Linked DNA regions of Homo sapiens. The protein of the gene in region 3 interacts with the protein of the main gene of each other region in a pairwise test. Each region holds a gene or a part of one and is shown on either strand. Other genes may lie near its edges. The genes, in order: C1orf50, TRIM5, EHHADH and FUNDC1.

Region 1 (7,711 bases), on a different chromosome or scaffold from region 3:
TGGCGTGCGCCTGTAATCTCAGCTACTGAGGAGGCTGAGGCAGGAGAATCACTTGAACCAGGAGGCGGAGGTTGCGGTAAGCTGAGATTGAGCCACTGTACTCAGGCCTGGCAATACAGCGAGACTCTGTCTCAAAAAAAAAGAAAGGAAAGAAAAGAAATTCTGCTAACAATTTAAGTGAGCTTGGAAGCAGATCCTTCCCCACTCAGGCCTTCAGATAAGAACAGCCCTGACCAATAACTTGATTTCAGCCTTCCAGGGTTTCAGAGAAACTGTGAAGCAGAGGACTCAATGAAATGGTGCCTGAACTCCTAACCTGTAAGCTCTGAAATAAATAGGTGTTGCTTTAAACCATTAAGTTTGCAGTAATTTGTTTATCTGTAACTAATAAAGCACCTATTCAAAATGTGTCATCATCATGCAGGTCAGAACCTTCTGAAAACCTGGGAAACTTTCTGTAGTCAGAATCCACTACTCTACCACTAATGTCTCTTCCATCCGGCTCTGCAGCACCTGAGCAAAAGACCTCTGCAGCTGAGTCCAAAGAGCATTCCCATGTGAACCGAGCAACCAAGTATCATCGGAGTGAGTTTGTTAGATTCTAGCCCCATCCTGTGCTAGGCCTTAGGTAGACCTCTTACAGCTCACAAGAAATGCAGTTTATGAGGAAAGACCATGAATCGGGGGGCGGCCCGGGGAGGGTATTACCAAACAGATCAGCATCAGGAACATCATTCCCAGAGAGAAATTTGGCCAATTGTCAGTTCAAGTACACATCTCTCCCTCCTTTTACAGCATATTGCAATAGATTATAGCCATGCGAAATAATCCATAAACTTAGCTAATTCCACCAAACAGATAGGAAAGAAGGTAGAGTCCTACAAGAGCCTAGTCAGAATAAGAACTACAGTAATTTTGCCAAAACCCTGTTAAGTTCTTGAATAATTCTGGTCAAAATGGATTTCAATCTGAGTTAACTCACAGTCAACAATTTGGCTGTTTTTCTTGCTTCTCACTCTACTGCCTTACTCTCTTCCACAGTGTTAAGTAGCCATTTAAATGGGTTTGTTCTGCTGCAGGTGGCTGAGCCTGGGATTTCCAACTTGGGAGACTACACAGTGGACTCTATAATGATTAGTGGCAGCATCCAATGTCTCTTCCAAGTCTAAAATTTGTGAGTTTCAAAGTTGACTCTCCCCAAACCTGGCCTTTGCTGCCTCAGATTCTGTCACTCTAGCAAGGCAGAGAGAGCAAAAGGGGCAAGACAAACCTCATCAACAGCACAGAAATCCCAGAATCACACACTCTCTGGTCCAGCCAAGCCAAGTGTTTTTTTTTTTGTTGTTGTTGTTGTTTTTTAAATCACCCTCCATTACTCAACATTCTCGTTCCCAGATGAATTTTAAACTGGAGTTGCACCAACTGTGAGACAGCCTCAACCCCAATGTTAAATACTACCAGTTATATATATATATATATATATATAAAAGACTGAAAACAGTTCTCTCTGGAAAACGATCCACCAACCTTTTTATGGGAAGAAGGTCTTCTCTAACACTTTAACTTAAGGGAAGAAGTGATGGAGAGGAAGAAGGAAAGTACACTGGCCAATACTCTGAAACTGACTGACTTGGGTATCTGTGGTCCAAAGAGGATCCCGAAAGACAGTGACTCTGTCTCAATGATTATTCCCATCCCAATTAAAAGTCATAATGACAGCATTTACATTCACACAGGGTCTCTTTCCAAGAAGTTTGTGAGTCACCTACATGTCTTCAATTCTCAAGGCAACAGTGGGGGCAACAAGGAGGTTGACAGCCAGGTCCTGTGAGAGCTGTTTGTCAAAGCCCACTCTCAGTGAGTCAGTCCCTGGAAGTTGGGTTCAGTGCACGGAGGCAGGGCCACTGACTGGCTTAGCAACGTGTCCATCATGCTGATTTTAGCATCTTGCTTCTCAATGTCCTCATACGGAGTCCAGGACAAGTCATGCTGTAGTTTGTAGGCACCAAGGAAGTCATGTGGACAACTTGTCCCCCATTCCTAGAGAAGGCAAAGGAGGCAGTTCCCATCAGCGTGGGTTGTAAACAAACTGAGCTCATTTCCTAATCATGCCACAATCTCTTTTTTGGCTTTTCACTTCATACTAGTCAGAACAACCTTTGGAACGCAGTTACCTTACACATCAGATCCCTCCCTTAATGAAGAAAATGAGTGAAATAATTTAAGCACAGGTATATTTTTTAGAGTCATGTCTGGGCTCACATCACCCCCAATTTTCTAAGAAACCATATACCAATCCACATGTCTACATTTTCACACATATACCAAGAATTTCTCAGAGGCTGGAGTAGATTTTTGGGCAAACAATGTATGTTCTTACCTTTGGAGAAATGATGGAAAAATACTGCTGACCACTCTCCCGTTTATAGAGATAGTAAATGTTGCCAGGTTTTTTCACTATATTACAAGCTACATGGTGCAGGTTGGCATCTCTGTGAGCATCTTCCAGTACCTATGAATCACAGATATGTAACAAATTAGGTATTGGAGATAACAGGCACCCACATTTGGTGATCATCCCAATTAAAATTTGGAAACCATTCAGTGCTTAGGATCTTGCTCCCCCATAGCAATGAATCACTTCTGAGATCCAGATTATTCTGAAGAAACAAAAATTAGACTATGCTGCTATGCTGTAAAAATGCCTTTAGAAAAATTATATTTCAAGCCAGGCACAGTGATTCATGCCTGTAATCCTAGCACTTTGGAAGGCCATGGCAGGTGGATCACTTGAGTTCAGGAGACCAGCTTGGGCAACATGGCAAAACCCTGTCTCTACTAAAAATACAAAAAATTAGCCAGGTGTGGTGGCATATGCCTGTACTCCCAACTACTTGGGAGGCTGAGGCTAGAGGATCACTTGAGCCCAGGGGGCAGAGGTTGCAGTGAGCTGAGACTACACCACTGCAGTCCAGCCTGTGTGATACAGTGATACCCTATCTCAAAAAAAAAGATATTTCAAAATGTTGAGCATTAATGACCCTGGGTAATTTTTAAGCTTCTTTCCTATTTTTCTGTGCTAAGTACATTTCTTTTATAAATGAAAACATAATCCCCTGTTAAATGCTTTACCTCATGAAACCTTCTCCTGGAAAAAACAAAACAAGGGAGGCTGAGGCAGGCAGATCACCTGAGGTCAGGAGTTCAAGACAGGCCTGGCCAACATGGCAAAACCCCATCTCTACTAAAAATACAAAAGTTAGCAGGGTGTGGTGGCGGGCACCTGTAATCCCAGCTACTTGGGAGGCTGAGACAGGAGAATCGCTTGAACCCGGGAGGCAGAGGCTGCAGTGAGCTGAGACCATGCCACTGCACTCCAGCCTGGGCAACAAGAGCAAACCTCTGTCTCAAAAACAAACAAACAGACAAACAAAAACTTATACTTAACCTCTTAAGCTTATTCCTTCTATTTTACTCAACACCTCTACATTTCTAGGAGGTATTAAAGACATAAAAAGTCACAACGATTATAAACAAGTTCAGCCAATCCTGAGAACTAAATAAAGAAAATGAAAGCCTGTCTAACAGTCATTCCTTACCTTCCTGGCTTGTTCTTGCAAATGTTGGATTTGCTCAGCTATGACTGTCAGCTTGTTGGTGGCATTTGCTCGGATGAATTCATCAGCCTACAGGTGAGAAAAAACTAAACTGTGGGTTGAAAGAGGAAAAGACTTCTATGATGTTCTTATCTTGATCCCAGGGTTATGTTAATATTTTGCTTCTGCCTAAAATATTTTTCCCATTCTTGCCACTGCCCCATAGCCTCCCACTCATCCGAGGCCCCACTCAGATAGCACTGTCATGAGAAGGCCACCCTGACATGACTCCACGCCACAGAGTTAAGTGCTCTCTTCTATTTCCCATAGCTTTCCACCCCTTCGCTATGAACTGCAGTTACACTGAACTTCTTTGGTTCTCCAGCATGCCTTCTCTCTTTCTCTCTCCTGCTACCAAATATACTGAATATATCCTCTCCTCCAACCAATCCATTTTTCCTCCTGCTCTTTACCTAACAAACACCACACATTTCTCAGGTCTCCATTTTCTCATGTTTAAACACTTGTGAAATCAGGGATGGATTTTAAATAATTAAAAGACACTTGTGATCTGGCCCTTATCATCTGCTAAGGTAGAAATCTAGATACACATAGAAAGTATTCGGGTTTTTCTGTGTGACCCCCACACCCCCTGAACTGAGAAAGTATGCGTTAATCTGACCATTTCCTCAGTTATTTACATCACAACTACTTAAATGTTAACTTATATGTGCATTTCTAATTATTACTTAAAATGTATTTTAAAAGACTGCATTATGATGTGGACCTGAAACAGAGTTATAATGTACACACAAGACTACCTGTCACGTGCCACAAAGTGCAACTGAAGGCAATGGACATTTTTTTTTTTTCAGACAGTTTTCGTTCTTATTGTCCAGGCTGCAGTGCAATGGCGCAATCTTGGCTCACTGCAACTTCTGCCTCCTGGAGTCAAGTAATTCTCTAATGTCAGCCTCCTGAGTAGCTGGGATTACAGGTGCCCGCCACCATGCCCAGCTAATTTTTGTATTTTTAGTAGAGGCAGGGTTTCACCATGTTGTCCAGGCTGGTCTCGAACTTCTGACCTCAGGTGATCCGCCCACCTCGGCCTCCCAAAGGTCTAAGATGACAGGTGTGAGCCACTGAGCCCAGCCAGGACATTTCTTAAAATAGATCAAATTCTCAAAGCTAGGAGAGACTAATGTGACAAATTCATGTGCTGGGAAGGATTACCACTCAGGCAATAGAATTCTGTCAAAAACTTCCACCTTACTTTTAAGAAAAGCTGATTATACACAATTAAGGTAAAGAAATGAGGAGATTAAACTAGAACCTGAACTAAGAAATATTAAAGAGAATTTGCTGGTTAGTTGAGGAGTCTTAAGGCAAAGTTCAGGTATAAACCAGTGTTATGAGTGAACAGAAACCACACAAGTAAACTGAGTCATTTATCTGTCCCACAGATGTATATTAGGCAGCTACTATGTGTCAGACACCACACTAGGCACTGGGTGTACTGGCAAACAGGAAAGAGAAGTCCCTGCCTTTGTCAAGATCGCAAGTCAAGTCTAATACCGTTCAACAGAAATATGAGGCAAGTTGCATATAAAATTTTAAATTTTCTGGTAGCCACGTTAATAGTAAATTAATTCTAACAATACTTTTTTTTTTTTTTTTTGAGGCAGAGTCTCGCTCTGTCACGGAGGCTGGAATGCAGTGGTGCAGAGGCTCACTGCAACCTCCGCCTCCCGGGTTCAAGCAAATCTCGCACCTCAGCCTCCTGAGTAGCTAGGACCACAGGCATGCGTCACCATGCCCCGCTAATTTTTGTATTTTTAGTAGAGATGGGGTTTTGCCATGTTTGCCAGGCTGGCCTCGAACTCCTGGCCTCAAGTGATACGCCTGCCTCAGCCTCCCAAAGTACTGGGATTACAGGCATGAGCCACCGTGCTCAGCTAATACATTTTACTTAACCTAATATATCAAAAACATTTTCATTTTAACATGTAATCACTATTTGTAAGTTGTTAATGAAATATTTTGCATTTTTTGTTTGTTTTTGTTTCTTTTTTTGGTCCTTCTCAGTCTAATCCATATTTTGCATTTGATATTAAGCCTTCAAAATATAGTGTTTATTTTGTACTCACAGCACATCTCAATTTGGATGCTAAATTTTCATCAGAAATACTTCATCTGTATTTAAACTTAATAAAATTTATATGTGAAAAAGTTGATTCACATACTCAAATTGTTCCAATATACTTGAGTTCCAATAATTGAAGTAATTATCAGGTTTTTTAAATTCAAATTAATTAAAATCAAATAAAATACAAAATTCGGTTCCTCAGCCACACTAACAACGTAACACAAGTGCTTAACAGACATAATGTTGCTAGTGGCTACCTAAAGCACAGCTCCAGTGAGTAATAGATACCAAAAAGTAAAGATGATTAAAGCTAATATTATATGTACTCATAACAATGCACTGTTATGAAGGAAATAACCACAATTATGTCGTAGAAGCAGGTTAAAGATAACAAATGAGTTAAGTAAAAAAGCTACTTCATTTTTATGAAGTTTAATAATAGGGAGTGGTGGGGAATTGGAAAGTATATGTAGCCTAGAGGTATTTGAATTCAATTTAATAATACTGTCATTTGGATGGGGTAGGGTACGGTCTTCTTCAGACAAGAAGGCCTCACCAAGGATATAACATTTGACTTGGGTCTAAATGAAAGGAGAGGACCGACCATGAAAAAAGCTGGAAAAAAAAAAGTTTGCAGGCATTTGAGGCCAGTGCAGCTGAAGAGTAGTTAGTGATGGGCAATGTGTAGAACAGGGTTTAAAAAGAGAGCAGAGACCAGATTGTGCAGTCTTGTAGCCCATGGTAAAAGAATTTGCATTTTGTTCCAAGAATGAAAGCCCAGGTGTGGTGGCTCACACCTGTAATCCCAGCACTTTGGGAGGCCGTAGCGGATGGATCACCTGAGGTCGGGCGTTTGAGACCAGCCTGACCAACATGGAGAAACCCTGTCTCTACTAAAAATACAAAATTAGCCAGGCATGGCGGCACATGTCTATAATCCCAGCTACTTGGGAGGCTGAGGCAGGAGAATTGCTTGAACTCGGTAGGCAGAGGTTGCTGTGAGCCAAGATGGCGCCATTGCACTCCAGCCTGGGCAACAAGAGCGAAACTCCATCTCAAAAAAAAAAAAAAGAAAGAAAGAAAGGAGGAGCCATATATGGCCAAGGAGAGAGTAGGTATTTCTAGAGCTAAGGTAGTTCCAGATTAGGGGTGGCCTTATAATAACCCTCCCTTTTCTTAAGGTGTTAGCAATAAATCTCATAAACAAAATTTGAATTTATATTTTGAAGAGTTAATATAAAATGCAAAATATGGATTAGTCTGAGGTCCAAAAAAAGGAAAAAAGAAACAAACAAAAAAAATGCAAAATATTTCACGAACAACTTAAAAACAAAAGAGCCTCATAAAAAAGAAAGGAAGGGAAGAGTACCTACAACTACTAAGCACTAACCCTGGCCTCAACTACTCTGAGGCCCTTTACATTCATCTCATTTACTTCTCACAACACCTTTATGACGCTGGAGATGATAACCTCACTTTCTCATTTTAGCAATTAAGACTCACAGACATGAGGCAACCTGTCCAAGGTTTCACAGATAATAAACAGCAAAGGATCTGAACACAGGTCAGATTCCAAAATTCATGCCTTAATACCAGGCCTCCTGAGCTTTCTGAACACACACCAATACCTGGGTCAGTCTTGCTAAAAAAGTACTTTTTTTTTTGAGACGGAGTCTTACTTTGTCACCCAGGCTGGAGTGAAGTGGCACAATCTCCACTCACTGCAACATCTGCCTCCCAGGTTCAAGTGATTCTCCGGCCTCAGCCTCATGAGTAGCTGGAATTACGGGCGTCTGCCACCATGCCCGGCTAATTTTTTGTATTTTTAGTAGAGACAGGGTTTCACTATGTTGGCCAGGCTGGTCTTGAATTCCTGATCTCGTGATCCACCCGCCTTGGCCTCCCAAAGTGCTCGGATTACAAGCGTGAGCCACTGCACCCAGCCCACCACCATTTTTTTTTCTTTTTA
Region 2 (7,711 bases), on a different chromosome or scaffold from region 3:
GTACCCTCCACAAGGAGAAAGAGGGGAAAATGAGCACCAAATGTTACCTCAGACCCTAACACTGGGCTCAACCTAGTAAAACCCAGCCTGGCAGGTCTGAAGACACCAGACTCCAGACTGGTATCTATGGATAAGCCTCCAGGCCGTATCTCACAGCCTAGGCTCTAGATCTGTGCAGTGGACTCAGTCTACGAGCTATCTAAATGCGAGGTTGCCCTCAGTGGTAGGACCATTCTCAGTTGTGTTGGAACAACTGGATAGCCATATGCAGAAGACTATCTCACACCATGGAGGACTTTAAGTAAAGTAAGTCAGGAACAGAAAGACAAATACTGTATAACATCACTTAGTATGTAGATGTAAAAAATAGTTGAGCTCATAAAAGTAGAGAGTGGAAGAGGGGTTTCCAGGAGCTGGGGTGTAGGGAGAGTTGAGGCCGATATTGGTAAAAGGACACCAACTTCAGAATGAAAAGATGACTATCTTCAAGAGATCTATTGCAGAATGTGGCAATTATAGTTAACAATGTATTGTATTCTTGAAAATTGGGATAAGAGCAGTTTTCTTTTTTTTTTGAGATGGAGTCTCGCACTGTTGCCCAGGCTGGAGTGCAGTGGTGCAGTCTTGGCTCACTGCAAGCTCCGCCTCCCGGGTTCACACTATTCTCCTGCCTCAGCCTCCCAAGTAGCTGGGATTACAGGTGCCCGCCACCACGCCTGGCTAATTTTTTGTATTATTTTTTTTCATTTGTGGGGTACAATGCAAAATGAAAATATGCGGCCCCTTGTTCAAAATTTATTAAACATTTCAAGATGATGACAACAGAGCATTAAATCAAATGCAGGTGAGAGAGGGGTAGACACATCCTAAGGTGCCCTGGGGTTCCGAGGAATACAGCATGAGAAACACTGAACGTAGAGCCTGAGACAAGGACCTGGGTCCAGGTGATTTACCTGACCCCAGGAAGCAGGAATGAGGGAGCAGGGAGGTAAGACAGGGAGGAGGAGAAGCCAATGTATGAGTAAGCTGTTGGGGTTGTTTCTGGGCATTATGGGATCATGATCCCACCAAACCTCCTGGGAATGCCCCAGAATCTCTGCCCGAAACACTGAGAGCTGAGGCATTTCTCCATCAACTCCCAACCCCATTGGTTGAAGGATGCCCCTGGGGGTGCTAGCTTTCTTGCATTTCTTTTTTTTTTTTTTTCTTCTGTTGTGTTTTTTTTGTTTTTGTTTTTGTTTTATTATACTTTAAGTTTTAGAGTACATGTGCACATTGTGCAGGTTAGTTACATATGTATACATGTGCCATGCTGGTGCGCTGCACCCACTAACTCGTCATCTAGCATTAGGTATATCTCCCAGTGCTATCCCTCCCCCCTCCCCCCACCCCACCATAGTCCCCAGAGTGTGATATTCCCCTTCCTGTGTCCATGTGATCTCATTGTTCAATTCCCACCTATGAGTGAGAATATGCGGTGTTTGATTTTTTGTTCTTGCGATAGTTTACTGAGAATGATGATTTCCAATTTCATCCATGTCCCTACAAAGGACATGAACTCATCATTTTTTATGGCTGCATAGTATTCCATGGTGTATACGTGCCACATTTTCTTAATCCAGTCTATCATTGTTGGACATTTGGGTTGGTTCCAAGTCTTTGCTATTGTGAATAATGCCACAATAAACATACGTGTGCATGTGTCTTTATAGCAGCATGATTTATAGTCCTTTGGGTATATACCCAGTAATGGGATGGCTGGGTCAAATGGTATACTTCAGCAAAGTCTCAGGATACAAAATCAATGTACAAAAATCACAAGCATTCTTATACACCAACAACAGACAAACAGAGAGCCAAATCATGAGTGAACTCCCATTCACAATTGCTTCAAAGAGAATAAAATACCTAGGAATCCAACTTACAAGGGACGTGAAGGACTTCTTCAAGGAGAACTACAAACCACTACTCAAGGAAATAAAAGAGGATACAAACAAATGGAAGAACATTCCATGCTCATGGGTAGGAAGAATCAATATCGTGAAAATGGCCATACTGCCCAAGGTAATTTACAGATTCAATGCCATCCCCATCAAGCTAACAATGACTTCACAGAATTGGAAAAAACTACTTTAAAGTTCATATGGAACCAAAAAAGAGCCCGCATCACCAAGGCAATCCTAAGCCAAAAGAACAAAGCTGGAGGCATCACACTACCTGACTTCAAACTATACTACAAGGCTACAGTAACCAAAACAGCATGGTACTGGTACCAAAACAGAGATATAGATCAATGGAACAGAACAGAGCCCTCAGAAATAACGACGCATATCTACAACTATCTGATCTTTGACAAACCTGAGAAAAACAAGCAATGGGGAAAGGATTCCCTATTTAATAAATGGTGCTGGGAAAACTGGCTAGCCATATGTAGAAAGCTGAAACTGGATCCCTTCCTTACACCTTATACAAAAATCAATTCAAGATGGATTAAAGACTTAAACGTTAGACCTAAAACCACAAAAACCCTAGAAGAAAACCTAGGCAGTACCATTCAGGACATAGGCATGGACAAGGACTTCATGTCTAAAACACCAAAAGCAATGGCAACAAAAGACAAAATTGACAAATGGGATCTAATTAAACTAAAGAGCTTCTGCACAGCAAAAGAAACTACCATCAAAGTGAACAGGCAACCTACAAAATGGGAGAAAATTTTCACAACCCACTCATCTGACAAAGGGCTAATATCCGGAATCTACAATGAACTCAAACAAATTTACAAGAAAAAAACAAACAACCCCATCAAAAAGTGGGCGAAGGACATGAACAGACACTTCTCAAAAGAAGACATTTATGCAGCCAAAAAGCACATGAAAAAATGCTCATCATCACTGGCCATCAGAGAAATGCAAATCAAAACCACAATGAGATACCATCTCACACCAGTTAGAATGGCAATCATTAAAAAGTCTGGAAACAACAGGTGCTGGAGAGGATGTGGAGAAATAGGAACACTTTTACACTGTTGGTGGGACTGTAAACTAGTTCAACCATTGTGGAAGTCAGTGTGGCGATTCCTCAGGGATCTAGAATTTTTTGTATTTTTAGTAGAGACGGGGTTTCACCGTGTTAGCCAGGATGGTCTCAATCGCCTGACCTCATGACTGGCCCGCCTGGGCCTCCTGACCTCATGACTGGCCCTCCTGGGCCTCCCAAAGTGCTGGGATTACAGGCGTGAGCCACCGCGCCCAGCCTTTACTAGTGAATTCTATTGAGCATATAAAGAAGAAATGATAGCAGTTATTTAATTCTTTTCAGAAAATTAAAAAAAAAGGAAAAAGTCTCAATTAATTCCATGAAGGAAAAAAATAAAAAGCATCTTGTATTTTGACGTGTATTTGTTTGCCAGTGGCTAAGCTGAGCAATGAAAAGCTGCACTGGTAAGTCTCAACACTAGAATACAGAGAATAGGAACCTATCAAACATGACTAGAGCTAATTGATCATCTCCACTACGTCAAATTTTTCTACTGCTCTGGATAAATTAATAAAAATGGGATTATCTCTTGCTACTTCTACATTCAATTATTCTTATAACTTCAGCAATTGATTCAGAAAAGCGGTCCTGCAGAGAACATTGTTAATATTAGAAAAAGCACAGCAACGCAGAGAAGGAAATAGCCTTCACTTTTCTTTAATCTCAGTGCTCAGGCTTCTTTCCACTTTTTACCTGAAGCAGCTCCATCACTGACCCCTGCAGCCGATGCTCCAGATCTGAGATGAGCTCTCTCAGGGACTGGGTCTGCTGCACCATCTCAGTTTCAGAGTTCGTAAGGCTTTTCAGAATGTCTTCCTCCTCCTTCTCCAGGTTTTGCAGCTCATTGCTCTCCTCCCAGTCCAGGATGTCTCTCAGTTGCTCAAAATCTGCCAAGACGTTGGTTTTGTCATACTGTATTTGAGTCTTCAGAGATAAGAGAAGAGAAAGGGGCACTCAGTCTACCAGGCAGAGGCTGTTAGCCAGAAAAGGAGCTGTTTCTTTTGGGGAGTTCTCACAAGGAGGGGACATAGTAGCAGGAGAGTAGGTCTTAGGAAAGCTGCCTTTTCCTATTTCTTTTCCTTCATGACATTTTAAAACAATGACCTTGAATGGGTATATTGAGGTTCATCCTGCATCAAAATGGGTTACCTGGATGTAGCTTACCTTTCACACAGCTATGCAGGACACTCATGCCTGCCTGTATTACTTCTCAGCCCAAGCTCAAACTCCCTGCCAAAAGTTGAACACTGAGGACAGAATCATGAGCCATTGCCAAATGTCTTCCCCAAGTAGAGTCACGGACTCAAAAAGTAGCACAAAAATAGAATGCAGGATTCACTAGCCATCCTCACCAGAGAGATCCTTCATGTAAAGAGCTCCCTACTGTGTTCACTGTGACATATTCACTCCTCAGCCACCACACCCCATCAGGGAAAGGATGAAGAGGACTAATCAAATGACTTCTGGACTTATCAAATGTCAGGGAATAAAGAGGAAGAAAGCTCCTTCCCCTGGTCCTGCCCAGATTTCTAGCTAACTCCTTCGGGAACCACATCCTCTTGCCTTCCAGGAAGCTTTCTCTTCTCTGATGTCAGCTTCTAACTCTTCAGCTTCCTGCTGCTTCTGCCTCAGCATCTCCAGAGCTGCCTGGAGCTTCACCTGTGAGAAAGGAATCACACCATAGTCAAGCTATGAGGTTTTCCAGCACCTAGATAGAGTATAAACATGAAATAAATCAGGTTGATCTCAGAAGAAACAAATTTGCAGAAACTGTGAGAATGGCAATGAGAATCCATGACTTGGAAGAAAACTTACATTGGTGAATGTGCTCCCTACATCTCAGGTAATAGACCTCCCCATCTCCTCACCATGAGTAGACTGATTCTTTTTGTCCTAGAAGAAAAAACTAATCCTGCAGCAAGGAAAAAACTTACATCTCAACCCACTCCTGTTACTCTCCTGCTGAAAGGGGTAATCAGAGCTTTTCTTGGACACCAAATCTCTACCCATCTAACCCAAGGTACAAAATATTTACTCCCGGCCAGGAATATATACTCTAGGATTATTCTCCTGTAATTGGGTGAAATGCAAAAAACCATCCTTAAAGCCTCAGAAGTTAAGCATAGCATGAAAAAAATAATCCCGGGTCTCAGGTCTATCATGACAAGGCAGTTAATGTCAAAGGCAAAGTGAAAATTTTCCATCTGGTCCCATTTTCTGCCCTCTCTTCCTTCCATCCCAGTCTCTTACTTGGTACTCCCGGGCAACCTCCTCTGTGAGGAACGTGTGGTGACCACGGTGCTCCTGAGACCGCTCACAAAGCCAGCAAATGACCTTCCCGTCCTCCTGACAGAAGAGTAGAAGTTTCTCTCCATGGCGTGCACAATGATCAACTTTCTGCCCCTCTGGGCTCAACTTGACCTCCCTGAGCTTCTCCACTATGTTGGCTACATGCCGATTAGGCCGTATGTTCTCAGGCTGGTAACTGATCCGGCACACAGGGCAGCTACTCTCTCCTTTGTCTAGCATGGACTTCTTGTGGTTTGCAGTGAGGCATGCTTGGCAGAAGCTGTGGCCGCAGTCCAGGCTCAGGGGTTGTGTCAGGAGTTCCAGGCAGATGGGGCAGGTCACCTCCTCCTTTACATTAACCAGGATTCCAGAAGCCATAGTAGCTATTCCACTGCTCCTGCCTGTCCTGGCTGCTGAGGTTCCTCTTGTTCACAGATCCCTGCATGATTGGGAAGGTTAAAATGGGACCAAGTAAGAAAGGTAGAAATAGAAAGGATATTGATTGTGCACAATTAGAAAATGGGCAAGATGAAAATAATTAAGGACAAAAAAAGGGGAGAAATAAGAAAAGGTGTTTGGTTACCTGGTAATAAGGGCTTTTCATAATCACCTTAAATACTTTACTGCCAGTTCATGTCATATGACAAATTCTGTTCTTATCTGTGCATTGGTTATCATTTTTCTTTACTTTCAATGAATAGAAAACAGACTGAGGTCTTTTCTACCAAGATCTTTGTGTGACCCATCATCTCTCCTGGCTTTTCTTTCCCACGCCAAAACACATCCTCAGTATTAAAATCACCAAACAGCTTATGCCTCAGGGCTTTCACATTTGCTCTTCTCTCAGCATGAAATGTTTCTCTGATGTTAGTACGATTTTATTAAATTCTCTCCTTACATGTTATATTATCAAAAATACCTGCTCTGACTACCTTATGTGCAGTGTAACAAATCTCACCATGCACTGTACGTTTGCAATGATTGCTCTTATTATCAGCAGAGTGAATGACTGTTTCATCAAATGTATAAATAGACATAATAAGTGATTTACAAAAATTATTTATCTTCAGTATGGTGACCTGAGATGACCTCGTATTCAGGGTCCTCTTTCACTGGCCTCTTTGCTACTCTTTTGGTTAATCAATGACAAATGGAGATAACAGCATATATCCAATTAATACCCAGAGCAATTGGGGTGTGGAAGTAGAGGAATCCACAACAGCTGGGAGGTTCTGAGGAGTCTCATCCTGAAAGTTTGCCAAGGACATTTATTGGAGCCTAAAGGTGTAGACATGGTGTAGAGGGTGATGATAGAGAAATACTCAGTGGACCACACATGTTGGATACTTGAAAACTAGAAGCACAGAGGCAGTGGATATCAGTCTTGAGAGAGAAGTCTCAAAATATTAGATGAGATGATTCTGTTCCCGGAACAAACGGAGGGTCGGCTGCTGCTTCTTGCGGCCCAATAACGAGATGCAGATTTACTGGGAAAGAAGCGAATTTTTATTTCTGCGTACAGGGAGAAGGCCTAGAAAATATCTCCAGACCAACTCAAAATTACAAAGTTTTCCAGAGCTTATATACCTTCTAAGCTATACGTCTACGTATAGGTGTGCATTATTCATCTAAAAACATAAGTGATTAACTTCTTCAAATCTATAACTAAGGTCTGAGTTTTAAGACCTTCCTCTGGTGCCTCAGTAAATTTACCTAATCTAGATGGGTCCGGGTGCTGGGGTGATTACCCTTATCTTGTCTCTCCTGCTAAATCATTAAGGTTTGCGGAGTTCCTTCAGACCCTCAATAAACTTGTTTGTGGAGGCCTGGGAGTTCCTTCAGACCCCCATAAAACTTGTTTAATCCTAAACAGGTCCTAATCGATTCCTTCGTTATCTTGTCATGCTTCAAGGCCCAGGAAAGGCCTGGGCAAAACTCTCAGTGGGCTTCTGTTACATTCCAGCCTTTGTATAAGGGCACTGGCTCTATCAGCTTTTAATATTTTTTTTTCTTTTTTGAGACGGAGTCTTGCTCTGTCGCCCAGGCTGGAGTGCAATGGCACAATCTCGGCTCACCACAACCTCTGCCTCCCAGGTTCCAGTGACTCCTCTGCCCCAGCCTCCCGAGCAGCTGGGACCACAGGCACGCACCACCACACCCGGCTAATTTTTGTATTTTTGGTACAGATGGGGTTTCACCATATTGGCCAGTCTGGTCTCCAACTCCTGACCTTGTGATCCACCTGCCTCGGCCTCCTAAAGTGCTGGGATTACAGGCGTGAGCCACCGTGCCCGGCTTCAGCTTTTAATATTTAACTTAACCAGACGGGTGTGGTGGCTCACGCTTGTAATCCTAGTACTTTGGGAGGCCAAGGCAGGCGGAT
Region 3 (7,711 bases):
TTGATTTCCTCATTTACCTAATGAACATTCAGGAGCAAGTTGTTTAGTTCCCATGTATTTGTAGAGTTTTGAGAGTTCCTCTTGCTACTGATTTCTACTTTTATTCCACTATAATATGAAACGATACTTGATATGATTTAGATTTTTTTGAATTTGTTGAGATTTGATTTATGGCCAAGCATATGATTTATTTTGGAGAACGTTCCATGCACAGAATGTCCCATGCACAAATAGAAAAATGTGTATTTTGCGGTTATTGCATAGAATGTTCTATAAGTGTGTCTATTAGGTCCATTTGGTCTAAAGTCTAGTTTAAGTCCATAGTTTCTTTGTTGATTTTCTGCCTTAATCATCTGTCTAGTGCTGTCAGCGGGGTTTTGAAGTCCTCCCTTATTATTGTATAGCTGTCTATCTCTTTTATTAGGTTGAGTAGTATTTGTTTTATAAATCTGAGTTGTCCATTTTGGGATGCATATATATTTAAGACAGCTATATCTTCTCCTTGTATTGAACCCTTTATTATTATATAATACATTCTTTGTCTTTTTACTGTTGTTGATTTAAAATCTGCTTTATCTGATGTAAATATAGCTACTACTGCTCATTTTTGTTTTGTGTTTGCACAGTGTATCTTTTTCCACTCCATTGAGTTTGTGGGTGTTTTTACCAAAGGGTGTCACTTGTGGGCAGAAAACGATCAGGTTTTGTTTTTTAATCCAATTTGCCTGTCTATATGTTTAAGTGGAGGATTTAGGCCATTTATGTTCAGGGTTAATATTGATATATGAGGGTTTGTTTCCGTCATAATATTGTTACCTAGTTGCTTTGTTGTCTCAATTTACACTACGATTTTTATATCTACATTTATAAATGAAATTAGCCTGTAATTTTTCTTTTCCATACTGTCCTTGTCAGGTGTTAGTATCAAGGGTATGCTGCCTCAAAAAATGAGTTGGGAAGTGTACTGAGTTGAATAGTGTTTACCCAGAAGCTGTGAGTGTGACATTTGGAAAGAAGGTCTTCGCAGATGTTATCAAATTAAGATGAGGTCATGCTGAGTTAGGGTGGGCCTATAGAAGATCAGGAAAATTTAGACATGGAGGAAAGAAAGCCATGTGATTAAAGTGAGACTGGAGTGATGCATCCATAGGCCAAGGATTGCTAGAAACCATAAGAAGCTAGAAGAGGCAAGGAAGGATTCTTCCCTAAAGAAAACAGAAGAAGAATGACCCTGCTGATATCTTGATTACAAACTTCTATCCTCCAGAGCAATGAGAGAATAGATTTCTGTTGTTTTAAGCCACTTGGTTTGTGGCAATTTGTTATGGTGCTCTAAGAAACTAATAGAGAAAGTGGCCCCACTTTTTTGATTCTCTGAAATGTTTATGTAAAATTGGAATATTTTCCTTGACTTTACAGTAGACCTTGCCAGTGGAGTCTTCAGGGTCAAGTATTTACTTGGTGAGATTTCTGATTACTGATTGAATTTCTTTAATGATTACAGAACTATTTGGGTTTTCTATTTCTTCTTGAGTTAATTTTGAGAAGCTATTTTTTTTACATGTTCATAATATTTTCATTATCTTTCTTTTTTCACTGTTACAATAACTTTAATTTATCTTGTATTTTACAGAAGTCTATGAACGATTTTAAAAAAGCACCTCTTTACCCCATATCATGTTTCTCTGACAGTTGTTAAAGTAGTCTATACATATGTCAACAGCTTGAGCATCAGCATCTTGCAAGGATTTCACACCAACCAGCCACTAGCCAAAGAACTTGGCAGCTTTTTTATCTTGCTTTTAATACAATGGTATATCCACTCTGATGGCAAACTGGTTTAGCCACATATCCACAACACGCTTTGAAAAATCAGTGATTAGCAAATTAGTTAGCTTTGGCACAGGGCTGTGCTCGCTTGCCCATGACAGTCTGGAAGCCAGTTTTGATACTGGCAACAGAACATCTAGAATGACAAGTTTCACACTGTAGGAAATAAGAGTTGCATGTCCTTCTGCAGGATTGTGTCCAGTGATCAGCATGTGTGACAAGTGACATACTCCTTGATAAATCTTAAGACATTTTCTATCTGTTTTTGTTGGAATCTTCCTTTACAAGTTGGTTATTACCATCTATAGAACCACTTGTACCCAATTCAACCAACAAAAATGCAAGTGTGCTGACAATATAATAGTTTACAGATATCTGTAAAGTTGACAGAAGAAGTTTTCTTGGTTCCTACTCAGACGACCTGTGGAGGTTGCATAACGAATTTCTTTTTCTCCCCAGCAACCATATCTGGATTCTTTTCCCTCATGATGTTGAACACACAATTCAGCAGCTCCTCTTATGTGTAGTCTCCTTCTGAGCCTGCCCAAGCAGGGCCTGTCTGATTACTGAATGAGATACCATCATCTTTTTTGCTATCTTCATCTTCTAGAGCTTCATCTTTCTCTAGTAGTTCATCCTCATCTGGGAACTTGACATTCTTCTTTTTCTTCTTTTTATTCCAAGCATAATGTCAAGGTCATCCTCTGGTTCAGCTGGTTCTTGAACATCACTTTCAATCTTAAGATCCTTTACAACTTCTTCAGCTTCATCAATATCAAATATCTTTTTTGTTTTTTTTTCTTTTTCTTTTGATTAAAGAAGTTCAAGTCATCTAGATCATCAGAAGCATCGTTTTTCCTACTGTCCTCATTGTCAGCTTCCAAATCTTTGTCCTCAGTTGGCTCTGGCTCCAGACTTTTGTTTCTGAGGGCTGCGTTTCCTGTTTGAGTATCCCCTTCCTCATCTAACATAAAAGGCTTCTTCTTCTTCTTTTCTTCTTGCTCACAGTAGGATCAAAAATCATCTCATCTCCAGATATGGATGCGATTCCAGTGGGCTCCGCATGGATGGGAAGTCAGACAGGTCAGCCCCCAGGCCCCGTGGCAGCGCTGCTCCTGCTGATACCTCTCCCACCACCGCACTAGGCTCTTGCATCAGCCAAAGGGCCATTATCTTTCTTAAAGGCTACAGTATCTGCAATGATATCCCTTTCATCATTCTTTATATGCATTGCTTGGTGCCTTCTCTTCTCCTTCAATCTCTCCAGAGTTTGTCAATTGTATTAGTCTCAAAAAACTAACATTGTTGTTCCTCTTGATTCAAATGTTTTCTATTTCATTAATTTCTCCTCTTTATTATTTCCTTTCTTCTACTTGATTAGGGTGTATTTTACGGTTAGTTTGTCAGTTCCTTTACATAAATACTTAACTCATTATATTTCAGCCATTTTTCTTTTCTAATATATATTTTTAAAGCTATAAATTTTCTGATAAGTTTTACTTTAGCTGCATCCCTCAAGTTTTATATTATGTTTTCATTGCCATTCAGTTCCAAATTTTTTCTAAATTCCATTATTTCTGTTTTTACTCAGAGGATATTGGAAATTAACTTCCAAACATATGAGAATTACTAGTTATATTTTTGTTATTGATTTCTAGCTTAATTGCATTGTTGTCAGATAATGTATTCTTAATGAAATTTATTTAGATAAGATTTTATAATTCAGTATCTGGTCAATTTTTGTAAATGTTCCAGATGTATTTCAGAAGAATGTATATTCTCCCATTTTGGGGTGCATTGTTCTATGTAAATGTATTAAGTCAAGTTTCATAATCCCTAATACTTTTTTAGAAGAATAATTTTTTCTGCCTCCAAACTCTAATTACATTCTCTCATCTACCTTCTTTCTTACAAAGAAATATCAAGTTCTTTATCATTCTGAGCACTCTTCCCATGCATCATCGTCATCATCTTGGGTGACAAACCTTAAATTTCCAAACAGTGAGTAAGCCATTTAATAACTGGTTAAGGTTTGGGACATTATATTAATCTCTCCCAGGCTCAAAATCTCTTCTTACCTGTAAATGAGGATTGTAGGACTAACTGAGAATTAACATATAACATGTTTAAAAATACTATTATTTTTATTATTATTATTTAATAAATAACCTACATGGTACTGGCATATAACAGGCAAGATAAATGGTAATATTATAATGATTCACATTTTTATATTTATTTATTGCCATGATTCTAACATCTGTGTCTTTTCAGACTACCATTAACACATATTAAATTTCTCTGGCTACAGTAAGGTTGAATAGGCCCCCATATCCATGTGACTTTTGTCAAAGGGTATAATGTATGAATATTAAGGAAAAGACGCCATATATGCCATTGAATAAATCACCATTTCAGCATACTTTTGCCATATTTTGTCAATAATTTTGCATCTTCACACAATAACCCAATAAAGCAGTGCCATGGTCACTGAGATGGGTGACTATCGGAAGAAAAATGAATTCTATTATAAGACTCTGTGTGAATTAAACAATAACATTTATTGACCATCTTCTTTGTGTAGGTACTGTAGTAGAGGCTTTCAGATATGTTATCTCGCTTAATGTCACAAAAACCCCTTAAAATAGATATTATTGTTCCCACTTTATAGATAGAGAAATTGAGGTTCAGGAAGTTAAAGAGATTTGCCCAAGCCCACATATGGTGGAGATACATGCAATGCAGGTATATATCAGCAGGTGTATAACAGCCATCAAGTCTGGAACTAAATATACTCTAAAAGCCCAATCCACAATAAAAGAGACTAAGCCCTTCTCTGGGTCTCTCTTGTAATTCCTGTCCCTTTCTCCACAGTGTTACTCATTCTCACTCAAGTCTGCCATATCCATTACCTACACTAAGTTATTACCAACAAGCACAGCTAATGCAGTATTGGTCTCAGTCTGTGGCTGGATTCCAGAGATGGTGGGAGAGGGTTAGACTTGAGTTACCTGCAGAAAATTTGCCCTCTGCTCCACAAATCACAATGGCTTTTATTGTATGGTCTATTACAGCTTTCTGTAGTCCTTCTTTTATGTCACGGAGTAAAGTCGTACTAAAAGAAAACAAAATACATGAAGTAAATCAGTCAGAATTAAATTCCTACCATTCAGAGTGTTTTCCTTTCCTAAAAATGAAAAATTAAACACACACATAATGGATAAAAACTGTAGATACTTCTCAATAAAGCTTCCAACAAATAATATGTCTACTATGACTATTAAATTTCTTCTACAAATAATATATATGCCTATGATTAATTAAGCACTGACCAGATTAAATTAATCCACTTTTTAAAAATGTAATTTTCCTGCACTGTGCTTTCACTTTGACCGCTTAAAATTGACACCAACCAATTTAAAAATATTATTACATGTCTTCTATATATTGTACAAGGAGTTATCCAATACTTGTACATAATTTATCATGTAAGGCACACTAAGATATCTGAGTGCTGTAATAAAGGTACAAAGAAAAAGTGATGTTGAAGTTCAGAGAAGGGTGAAATTACTTTCAGTTTTTCATATTGTTAAAATATAAGAAAATTAAATGAGAAACAGTCTAGGAGCTGTGGCGGGGGCTGTGAGTTACCTCAAATATCCATTCCTCTCCATCGTCTTCATAGTATTAAAACACTTGGTTTTTACTTGAATATATGTGATATGGTTTGGCTCTTTTTTTTTTGAAATGGAGTCTTGCTCTGTCACCCAGGCTGGAGTGCAGTGGCGCGATCTGGGCTCACTGCAAGCTCTGCCTCCCGGGTTCACGCCATTCTCCTGACTCAGCCTCCTGAGTAGCTGGGACTACAGGCGCCCGCCACCACGTCCGGCTAATTTTTTGTATTTTTAGTAGAGACGGGGTTTCACCGTGTTAACCAGGATGTTCTCGATCTCTTGAGCTCGTGATCCACCCACCTCGGCCTCCCAAAGTGCTGGGATTACAGGTGTGAGCCACCGCGCCCAGCCTGGTTTGGCTCTTTATCCCCACCAAAACTTCATTTCAAACTGTGATCCCCACGTCAGGGAGGGACCTAGCGGGAGTTGATTGGATCATGCCAGTGGTTTCCCCCTGCTGCTGTTCTGTGAGGGAATTCTCAGGAGATCTAGTGGTTTATAAGTTGCAGTTTCCCCTGCACTCATGCCTCTCTCCTGCCACCTTGTGAAGAAGGTACTTGCTTCTCCTTTGCCTTCCACCATGATTGTAAGTTTCCCCAGGCTTCCCCAGCCATGTGGAACTGTGATCAATTAAGCCTCCTTCCTTTATAAATTACCCAGTCTCGGATATGTCTTTATAGCAGTGTGAAAATGGACTAACACAAAAATATGGTTGCCCAAAATAAAGACTATATTTTCCAGCCTGCTTTACAGTAAGGTCTGCACAAGGAACTAAGTTCTAGCCAATGGGATGGAAGCATATTTGGTATATGCAACTTTGGGGAAGAGTTCTTAAAGATTTGGGTATGCTTTTCCCTTTTTCTTTCCTCCCTATTCCTGGCACCAGTGATGGTTAGATCAGGAGCAGCCACCTTGGATCAGGAGGTAGAAGCTATGTATTGAGGATGGTAGAGCAAGAGATAGACAGAGAAAATAATTGAGGCCCCTGTTGATTGTGGAGCAGCTGTATCATTCCAGGGCACTGCTGTGAGAGAAATTAGCTTTTTATTGTCTAATTCACTATTATCTTCACTATTCTGTCAGTGACAGCCAAGCGTAATCTTAACTAAGATAAGATATAAAGGCAAGATAGTGGAAAGATAGGGCATGTAGCAGATTTTGCCAAGTTTTAATATATGAGGAAGTCATCTGCAGAAGAGATAGCTAAAACCAAGACTGAATGAGTCTACCAAAGGAAAAGAGAGCTGAGGGCAGATCCTCTGGATATATCTTCATTTAAGAAGTGGGACAAGCTCAGCAGAGTGATTCAGCAAGTGAGCTCAAAGTCACAAAGACCAAGAGAGAAAATTTGTGAAGAAGGAGGGGATTAATAAGTACCAAGCAATAAGAGAATCTAGGGCAAGTGGTGAGGAACTGCTTAAAAGGAAAAACCACAGAACCAGATTCCAATCAGTTTTGCCTTGGAATTCCAAGTATTCTGAGTAAAATCTCTGTTCTTTAGTACACAGGGTTAAAAATAAATTTTAAAACAAAACAAACAACAACAAACTTCTGTAAAGGCCATATTGTTAAGACCAACAACTATTAGTTAAAACCCCAAGAAATAAAAAGGATACTTGCCCTTATTTATAATGATTCCCTTACACCTAATTACTTTTCACCTCTTAACCTAGATGAAATCAGACAAAACCTCTTGGCTTCAGCTGGTTAATTAGAAGCCAAATCTGACCATGAAAAGCAAATTCAGAACCATTATATAACATCAAAAAGTCCAAAAGGCACACATTTCCTTCTGAATAAACAATGCTTACAAAACTAGCCAAAATTAGCTCAATCAGTGCCACTGAGGAGAAGAAACCAGCTTTTCCCATTTCAACCTATCTTCCTTTTTTATGTTCATAATTTTGCAAATATCAAAAACAGGAAAAAAATGAAAATAGCTATAACAGATACGCACTTTACTAGATTCAAGCTGACAGAGAGAGTCATAGCAATGTAAAGGCCGCAGAAGTTATGAAATTATTTTCTCCTGTTAATACTGTCAGGCATGAAGAAATAGAGTCTGGAGTAGAGACAGCATTTCATGACTACTGACCAAAACTCTTCAGCTTCTTTGACTATAGAAGGTCTTTCCTTTTTTTTTTAGACAGTTTTTTTTTTTAAACCAAAAGTCATCAAATCAAGTTTGTGGCTTGTGACCAGGATTT
Region 4 (7,711 bases), on a different chromosome or scaffold from region 3:
AATTGCAGCTACTCGGGAGGCTAAGGCACGAGAAACACTTGAACCTGGGAGACTGAGGCTGCCATAAGCCAAGATCACACCACTTGCACTCCAGCCTGGGCAACAGAGTGAAACTCTGTCTCAGAAAAAAAAAAAAAAAAAAGGAACCCCAAGAGTACAGTATGAAAAGGGGGAAAAGCTGGTGGATCCTCTCATATGGGGATAGTAGGAATACTTTCTGGAAGGCTACTTGACAATCAAGAGGCTTAAATATATATATGTGTGTGTGTGTGTATATATATATATATTTTTTTTTTTTGAGACGGAGTTTCGCTTTTGTCACCCAGGCTGGCGTGCAATGACATGATCTCGGCTCACTGCAACCTCTGCCTCCCAGGTTCAAATGATCCTCCTGCCTCAGCCTCCCGAGTAGCTGGGATTACAGGCATGCACCACCATGCCCGGCTAATTTTGTACTTTTAGTAGAGATGGGGTTTCACCTTGTTGGCCAGGCTTGTCTCGAACTTCTGACCTCAGGCGATCCGCCCGCCTCGGCCTCCCAAAGTGCTGGGATTACAGGCGTGAGCCACCATGCCTGGCCTAAATATGTATATTTTTGCTTTGTCTTAGACAAGTGTGCAAAGCTGTATATAAATGGCTAGTCACTGCAGAGTTGTTTGTAAAGCTGAAAAAATAAACTGCTAGATGAACATTCTGTGTAGATGCTAAGAATTGCTTGTAGGACAGACTATTTGGATCAACACTCTGAACCTGCAGTCTATTAAGGCAGTCACTTCCAACTAGCATCTGGTGATCTAAGGAAAACTTTCAGTCTCTGCCACTTTCTAAGAAGCTTCTATCTTCGAATTAGAGAAGACATTCAACTATACCATCTCTCACAAGCCTTCTTGGTCTATAGACATGCAATTAAAATGGTTTCCAAGAATGTTAGTGCTCCAGTAATATGATGTGTTTCTAAAAGTCTTATTGAAGGGACGGTCTTCTAACCATTGCATTGGTTGAAACAATGGGTTGGAGGAGGACAAGTCACACATAATAAATACATCCCACCAATCTCTTAAAAAAACAGTATCCAAGGCCAGGCGCAGTGGCTCACGCCTGCAATCCCAGCACTTTGGGAGGCCGAGGCAGGCAGATCATGAGGTCAGGAGATCGAGACCATCCTGGCTAACACAATGAAACCCTGTCTCTACTAAAAATACAAAAATTAGCTGGGTGTGGTGGCAGGCGCCTGTAGTCCCAGCTACTCGGGAGGCTGAGGCAGGAGAATGGTGCAAACCCGGGAGGCAGAGCTTGCAGTGAGCCGAGATCGTGCCACTGCACTCCAGCCTGGGTGACAGAGCAAGACTCCGTCTCAAAAAAAAAAAAAAAAAAAAAACAACAAAACAACAACAACAAAAAAATAGTATCCAAGTATTAGCCATTAAAAATTTTTAAAAAAGATACTGCTCACTGCATCCATGAAGGAAAAGCAAGAAACAGAATGCTAAAGTCACATTAAAAGAACAACAGCCGGGCATGGTGGCTCACATTTGTAATCCCAGCACTTTGGGAGACCGAGGTGGGTGGATCGCTTGAGCTCAGGAGTTCAAGACCAGCCTGGGCAACATAGCAAAACTCCATCTCTACTAAAAATACAAAAAATTAGCCAGGCATGGTGGTGCATGCCTGTAGTCCCAGCTACTTGGGAGGCTGGCGTGAAGAAATCACCTGAGCCCGGGAGGTCAAGGCTGCAGTGAGCCAAGATCGCACCACTGCACTCCAGCCCAGGTGAACAGAGTGAGACTCTGTCTCAAAAAAAAAACAAAAAACAAAAACAACAAAAAAAACTTGTTGAAGTTGAAGAAATCTCCCAGAAAATAGACCAAAAAGATAGAAGTGGAAAATTGAAAAGATTATTAGTGTTCTACCAAATCTAAGAAAGAAAAAAAAAAAATTATTAGGCCAAGCAGTCAGTGGCTCACACCTGTAATCCCAACATTTTGGGAGGCCAAGGCAGGAGGATTGCTTGAGACCAGCCTGGGCAACATAGCAAGACCTCATCTCTATTTAAAAAAAATTAAAAATAAGTCTAAAACTGTAAAATAAATAAAGAAAGAAAAATTAGACAACTGGTCCAGGAGATCCATATAACTGGAACTACAGAAAAAAAGATGGGAAAATTAAAGAGCAGGATATCATTAACTAAATAAATATAAAGAAAATTTCCCCAAACTGAAAGGGCCCCTTGAGTTTCCAGCACAGTGGATGAAAATAGGCCCACAGTAAGGCACATCACTGGGAAAAATCAGAATACTGAGGACAAAAGAAAATCCTATAAGCATTAACTGAAAGGAAAAAAAAAAACCCACACATGTAAAGGTTCAGAAATTAGAATTACTTTAAACTTTTAACAGCAACACTGGAAGTCAGAAGACAATGGAGCAATACCTAAACACAGCTATTAATAAATTATCAAACAAATGTGAGGATAAAATGAAGAAATTTTCAGACATGCAAAGTCTCAAAAACTATAGTTCCCATTCTCATTTTCTACGAAAGCTATTGGAGGATGTGTCCACCAAAACAAGAGAATACATCAAGACATAGGATAGGCCAGGTGCAGTGGCTTACACCTGTAATCCCAACACTTTGGGAGGCCAAGGCGGGTGGAATGCTTGAGCCCAGGAGTTCGAGACCAGCCTGGGCAACATAGCAAGACCTCCCTATTATACAAAAATACAAAAATTAGCGGGCATGTGGCACACGCCTGTAATCCCAGCTACTTGGGAGGCTGAGGCAGGAGGATCCCTTGAGCCCAGGAGGCAGAGTTTGTAGTGAGTGAGATTGTACCACTGCACTCTAGCCTGGGCAACAGAGCAAGACTGTCTCAAAAAACAAACAAACAAACAAAAGACATAACATACAAGAAACAACCCAAAACAAAAAGGGAATATCCAGAAGGTATTGAAGAGAGATCCCAGGGTGAGAGCCGTATACCAGGCCTAGAAAGCAAACAGGACAGATGACTCTGGGACCAAGTTTGCCCAGACGGTTAAACTGATGAACTATTTGATACATACGACAATGAAAGGTGATTTACACAACTAGTAGTTGTCTAAAGAAATAATACTGGGCCAGGTGCGGTGGCTCACACCTGTAATCCCAGAACTTTGGGAGGCCGAGGCGGGCAGATCATGAGGTCAGGAGATCGAGATCATCCTGGCTAACAGAGCAAAACCCTGTCTCTACCAAAAAAATACAAAAAAGTTAGCCGGGCTTGGTGGCGGGCGCCTGTTGTCCCAGCTACTTGAGAGGCCGAGGCAGGAGAGTGGCGTGACCCTGGGAGGCGGAGCTTGCAGTGAGCTGAGATCGCACCACTGCACTCCAGCCTGGGTGACAGAGCAAGACTCTGTCTCAAAAAAAAAAAAAAAAAAAAAAAGAAAGAATCCTGGCTGGGCGCGGTGGCTCACGCCTGTAATCCCAGCACTTTGGGAGGCCAAGGCGGGTGGATCGCCTGAGGTCAGGAGTTCGAGACCAGCCTGGCCAACATGGTGAAACCCCATCTCTACTAAAAATACAAAAATTAGCCAGGCATGGTGGCAGGTGCCTGTAATCCCAGCTACTTCGGAGGCTGAGGAAAGAGAATCGCTTGAACCCAGGAGGCGGAGGTTGCAGTGAGCCGAGATTGTGCCATTGCACTCCAACCTAGGCAACATGAGCAAAACTCTTGTCTAAAAAAAAAAAAAAAGAAGAAGAAAAGAAATAATCCCGGCCGCCCGTGGTGGCTCACGCCTGTAATCCTGTAATCCCAGCACTTTGGGAGGCCGAGGCGGGTGGATCAATAGGTCAAGAGTTCTAGACCAGCCTGGCCAAGATGGTGAAACCCCATCTCTACTAAAAATACAAAAATTAGCGGGGTGCTGTGGCAGGCAGCTGTAGTCTATAATCCCAGCTACTTGGGAGGCTGAGGCAGGAAAATCACTTGAATCCGGGAGGTGGAAGTTGCAGTGAGCCAAGATTGCGCCACTGCACTCTAGCCTGGGCGACAGAGCGAGACTCTGTCTCGAAAAAAAAAAAAAAAAAATCCCAAACTTCCTAGTAGAAATAATGGCCAAAACCTTCCCAAACATGATTAAAGACATAAATTCACAGGCTCAAGAAGTTCAGTGAACTCCAAGTAATCAATCTCAGTGAACTCCATATAATGAATGATCTAACACAATTATGAAAAAAGGGAAGTAACTACACTCAGACGATTGAGGGAGAGGGAAGAAAGCATTCAGGTATGTGAGATTTGGGGAAGTATAGGGAAAACAAAACAGGTCAATAAATGACAGCTAAATTTTCCCATTCCATAATGGGAAGCCAATAGTTCACACCTAAAACTGAAAGATCAAGAAATGTCCAATTAACTTGTTTAGGGAAAAAGAGATTACTACCTTAAGAATCAGTTAAGAGTGCAAACTGGATGTCTCAAGGGATGGAAAAATGGGGGTAGTGAGAGAGGTGGAGGATTACTCTAATCTGTAACAAGCCTTGCACAAGTACTTGGCCCTTTGAATTATAAGGATGTATAACTCCAAAAAATTAAAACGAAGAGACTGTGTACTTTAAGATGGCAGTGTAATAAATATCTATTGGAAAACACTTGATATTGTTACTAGAAAAGCTTTAAGTTCTAAATAAACTAATATTTACCTTTAAATATAAGAAAGGTCATAAAAATATGAAAGTGGGCCTAAAGAATATTAGGCAATTAGCCTAAAAGCCATTTGTTACTTTATTTCCCCTTTCACTTTCCTTCTACTGAGTTTTCAAGGTTAGTCGTATTTGTGGGAAAAACTGGTTTGATGCAGATAGGTCCTATGTTGCTCTGCCTTAAAAACTTCAAAGACTACGTGTACTAAATGCGGAAAAGTGGGAGGTGGCAATGACAAAATGTGGATTTGAATGGTGCATATTGAGTGAACTGAAATGGACTTCTGAAAAACTGACATGCAGAGTGGATTAAAATATACACTTCTCTCCATTCTGTGAACATTTTAGGAAACTCTGCTTCAGTCCAGTACCCTTTTACACTAACAGAAATGACAACTGAGTCTTCAAAATAGCTATGGAATAAAATATGCTCTTGATTCCATATAAAACCAAGTCAAAATCAGCTTAAGTAAAATTATCATCTGTACTAATGCTGGCATATTCATCCAAAGAACTAAATTTAGGTATTAATCATTTTTTTTACCTCTTACCACAAGTAATAAGCAATTATTCGTAATAATGTCACCAAAAGAAAGAAAACATATATATTTTTAAAAGGCTGTTTAGTGAACAACTCAAAATCTGTGCTTCATACATACAAATCTAGTCCCCTTGTACTACAACTACACTAGTTATTACATGATCGATGGCTTAGGTGCTGAATTCAGATTCTGGTGGCTATGAACATCAATCATTTTTAAAATCTAGTACAAGTGACAGTTCTCTGTATCTTTAAAAGTGCTGCTCACATTCATTCGTAGAGATTTTCAATTTTTGGATTTACTATATTTGATCTTCAAGGAATGATATTTTTGAAAAAATACATGCCAAACAGACATGAATGCCAGATGATGCCCTGATAAACATCCTCTAATGGCAAAGCATTTTTAGATCTTATACTTACAAGAATATGAACAAAACTAAAACTTCAAATCTATCTGCCTCAGATATAAGATTATGGATTTTTGTTTTGTTTTGTTTTGTTTGGAGACAGAGTTTTGCTCTTGTTGCCCAGGCGGGAGTGCAATGGCACGATCTCGGCTCACTGCAACCTCCGCTTCCTGGGTTCAAGCAATTCTCCTGTCTCAGCCTCCCAAGTAGCTGGGACTACTACAGGCGTGCACCACCATGGCAGCTAATTTTTGTATTTTCAGTAGAGACGGGATTTCACCATGTTGGCCAGGCTGGTCTTGAACATCTGACCTCAAGGGATCTGCCTGCCTCTGCCTCCCAAAGTGCTGGGATTACAGGCGTGAGCCAATGCGCTCGGTAATGGCTGTCTTTTTAATAGCTGGGATCAAACTATGCTTAATAACTCAGAAGTATTTAAATTGTTATCTTTCAAGACAAAAGTCAGCTTCCAAAACTCATTGTAGCTCTTCCATAAACTGATGCCTAAAAGAAAAATTCCACCTTCTATGAAAGCAAAGGCAAGTGCTTAAAGCTCTGACATACCTGAAGAAGAAGAAAGCCACCACCTACTGCAGTTGCTGCAAGTTTTCCAACTTTCTGGAACAGAAATCCTGCACACCTTTAATCAAATAACAAAAGATGAAAACAATCAATTATGTACTAAACCCTCTCCCTCTTCTACTTTTCATTGCTTTCCTAATAAAATCTTATGTCTTTGCATTTCTTTTGATCACATCCCTTACCTGCTCAGAAACCTTCTCAGAAACCCCTCAGTTATACAGGCTAGTCAAAAATGCACAATCTAAAATGTCTGAAATTTGCTTCAAAATAAGGGACGGAGAGAAGAGGAGGAGAATTTATAGAAAAAAAAGAGCAGCTACTAAAATAACGACAAGTACTCAGGGGTTCATTATATTCCTCCTACATTTGTATAAGCTGAAACCTCCCGTAATAAAAGTGATGTTTTGCTTAATACAGTCAAGATGGTCCATACACCTGGTTGACCCCCACCTTCGGCTCCAACCCCATTAACCTCCAAATAGGTCATCACCTTTGCTCAAGCTATTAATCTCCCTGCTTCTAGGGGTTTCTTCCTAGCTCTACCTATCTAAAGCTTTCCTACCATTCCTACCCTTTCAGGTCCAGCTGTTGTTCCACTCAATAACTATACTTCAGCCCACATTTCTAAAGGCCTCCTTATCTATATCTACCTATTTTTATATTAAATGTTTTTTGTGTCTCATCTACCCTGTGTCAGCTCATACTTCTTTTGTCATTAATTCGCTCCTTCAGTGAGCTCACATTCCCTTCAGCATTCCAGATCCACACTGTGCAAATGAATCCTATATTTCTAACTCTAGCCTTCTGCACTGGGTTGAATGGTGTCCCCCTCAAAATTCATATCCTTCCCAAAACCTCTAAATGTGACCTTATTTGAAAACAGAGTCACTGCAGATGTAATAAGTTCAGATGAGATCATACTGGACAGGGTGGGCCTTTAATCCGATAAGGACGCACACAGAGGGAAGACGACATGTGAGGACAACAGAGGCAGAGACTGGAGTAATACGTCTACAAGCCAAGGAATGACAAGGATTGCTGGCAACCACCAGAAGCTAGCAGAGAAACATAAAACAGATTTCTCCCTCTGAGCCTCCAAGAAGGAACAAACCCTGTTGACATCCTGATTTCAGACTTCTAGCCTCCAGAACTGTGAGAGAATAAATTTCTGTTATTTAATTTAATTAATTAATTTATTTTTTAGATGGAGCTCGCTCTGTCACCCAGGTTGGAATGCACTGGTGCCATCTCAGCCCACTGCAACCTCCGCCTCCCGGGTTCAAGCAATTCTCCTGCCTCAGCCTCCTGAATAGCTGGGATTACAGATGCCCGCCACCACACCCAGCTAATTGTTGTATTTTTAGTAGAGACGGGGTTTCACAATGTTGGCCAGGCTAGTCTTGAACTCCTGACCTCTGGTGATCCACCCGCCTCGGCCTCCCAAAGTGCTGGGATTACCAGTGTAAGCCACCGCACCTGGCCTCCACAGTTCTATATA

What was found.
Region 1: the proteins of EHHADH (region 3) and C1orf50 interact in binary tests that used the Homo sapiens proteins (3 or more experiments, as listed by UniProt).
Region 2: the proteins of EHHADH (region 3) and TRIM5 interact in binary tests that used the Homo sapiens proteins (3 or more experiments, as listed by UniProt).
Region 4: the proteins of EHHADH (region 3) and FUNDC1 interact in binary tests that used the Homo sapiens proteins (3 or more experiments, as listed by UniProt).

What each region holds. Positions count from the first base shown.
Region 1 is NC_000001.11:42,769,538-42,777,248, reverse strand, and holds part of C1orf50 (uncharacterized protein C1orf50), read right to left. Parts: intron 3,687-7,711; coding exon 3,600-3,686; intron 2,513-3,599; coding exon 2,381-2,512; intron 2,041-2,380; coding exon 1,855-2,040; 3' UTR 1-1,854.
Region 2 is NC_000011.10:5,674,472-5,682,182, forward strand, and holds part of TRIM5 (tripartite motif-containing protein 5), read right to left. Parts: intron 5,768-7,711; 5' UTR 5,707-5,767; coding exon 5,290-5,706; intron 4,699-5,289; coding exon 4,603-4,698; intron 3,964-4,602; coding exon 3,733-3,963; intron 1-3,732.
Region 3 is NC_000003.12:185,243,573-185,251,283, forward strand, and holds part of EHHADH (peroxisomal bifunctional enzyme), read right to left. Parts: intron 4,946-7,711; coding exon 4,842-4,945; intron 1-4,841. UniProt on the Homo sapiens protein: Peroxisomal trifunctional enzyme possessing 2-enoyl-CoA hydratase, 3-hydroxyacyl-CoA dehydrogenase, and delta 3, delta 2-enoyl-CoA isomerase activities. Catalyzes two of the four reactions of the long chain fatty acids peroxisomal beta-oxidation pathway.
Region 4 is NC_000023.11:44,532,272-44,539,982, forward strand, and holds part of FUNDC1 (FUN14 domain-containing protein 1), read right to left. Parts: intron 6,272-7,711; coding exon 6,196-6,271; intron 1-6,195. UniProt on the Homo sapiens protein: Integral mitochondrial outer-membrane protein that mediates the formation of mitochondria-associated endoplasmic reticulum membranes (MAMs).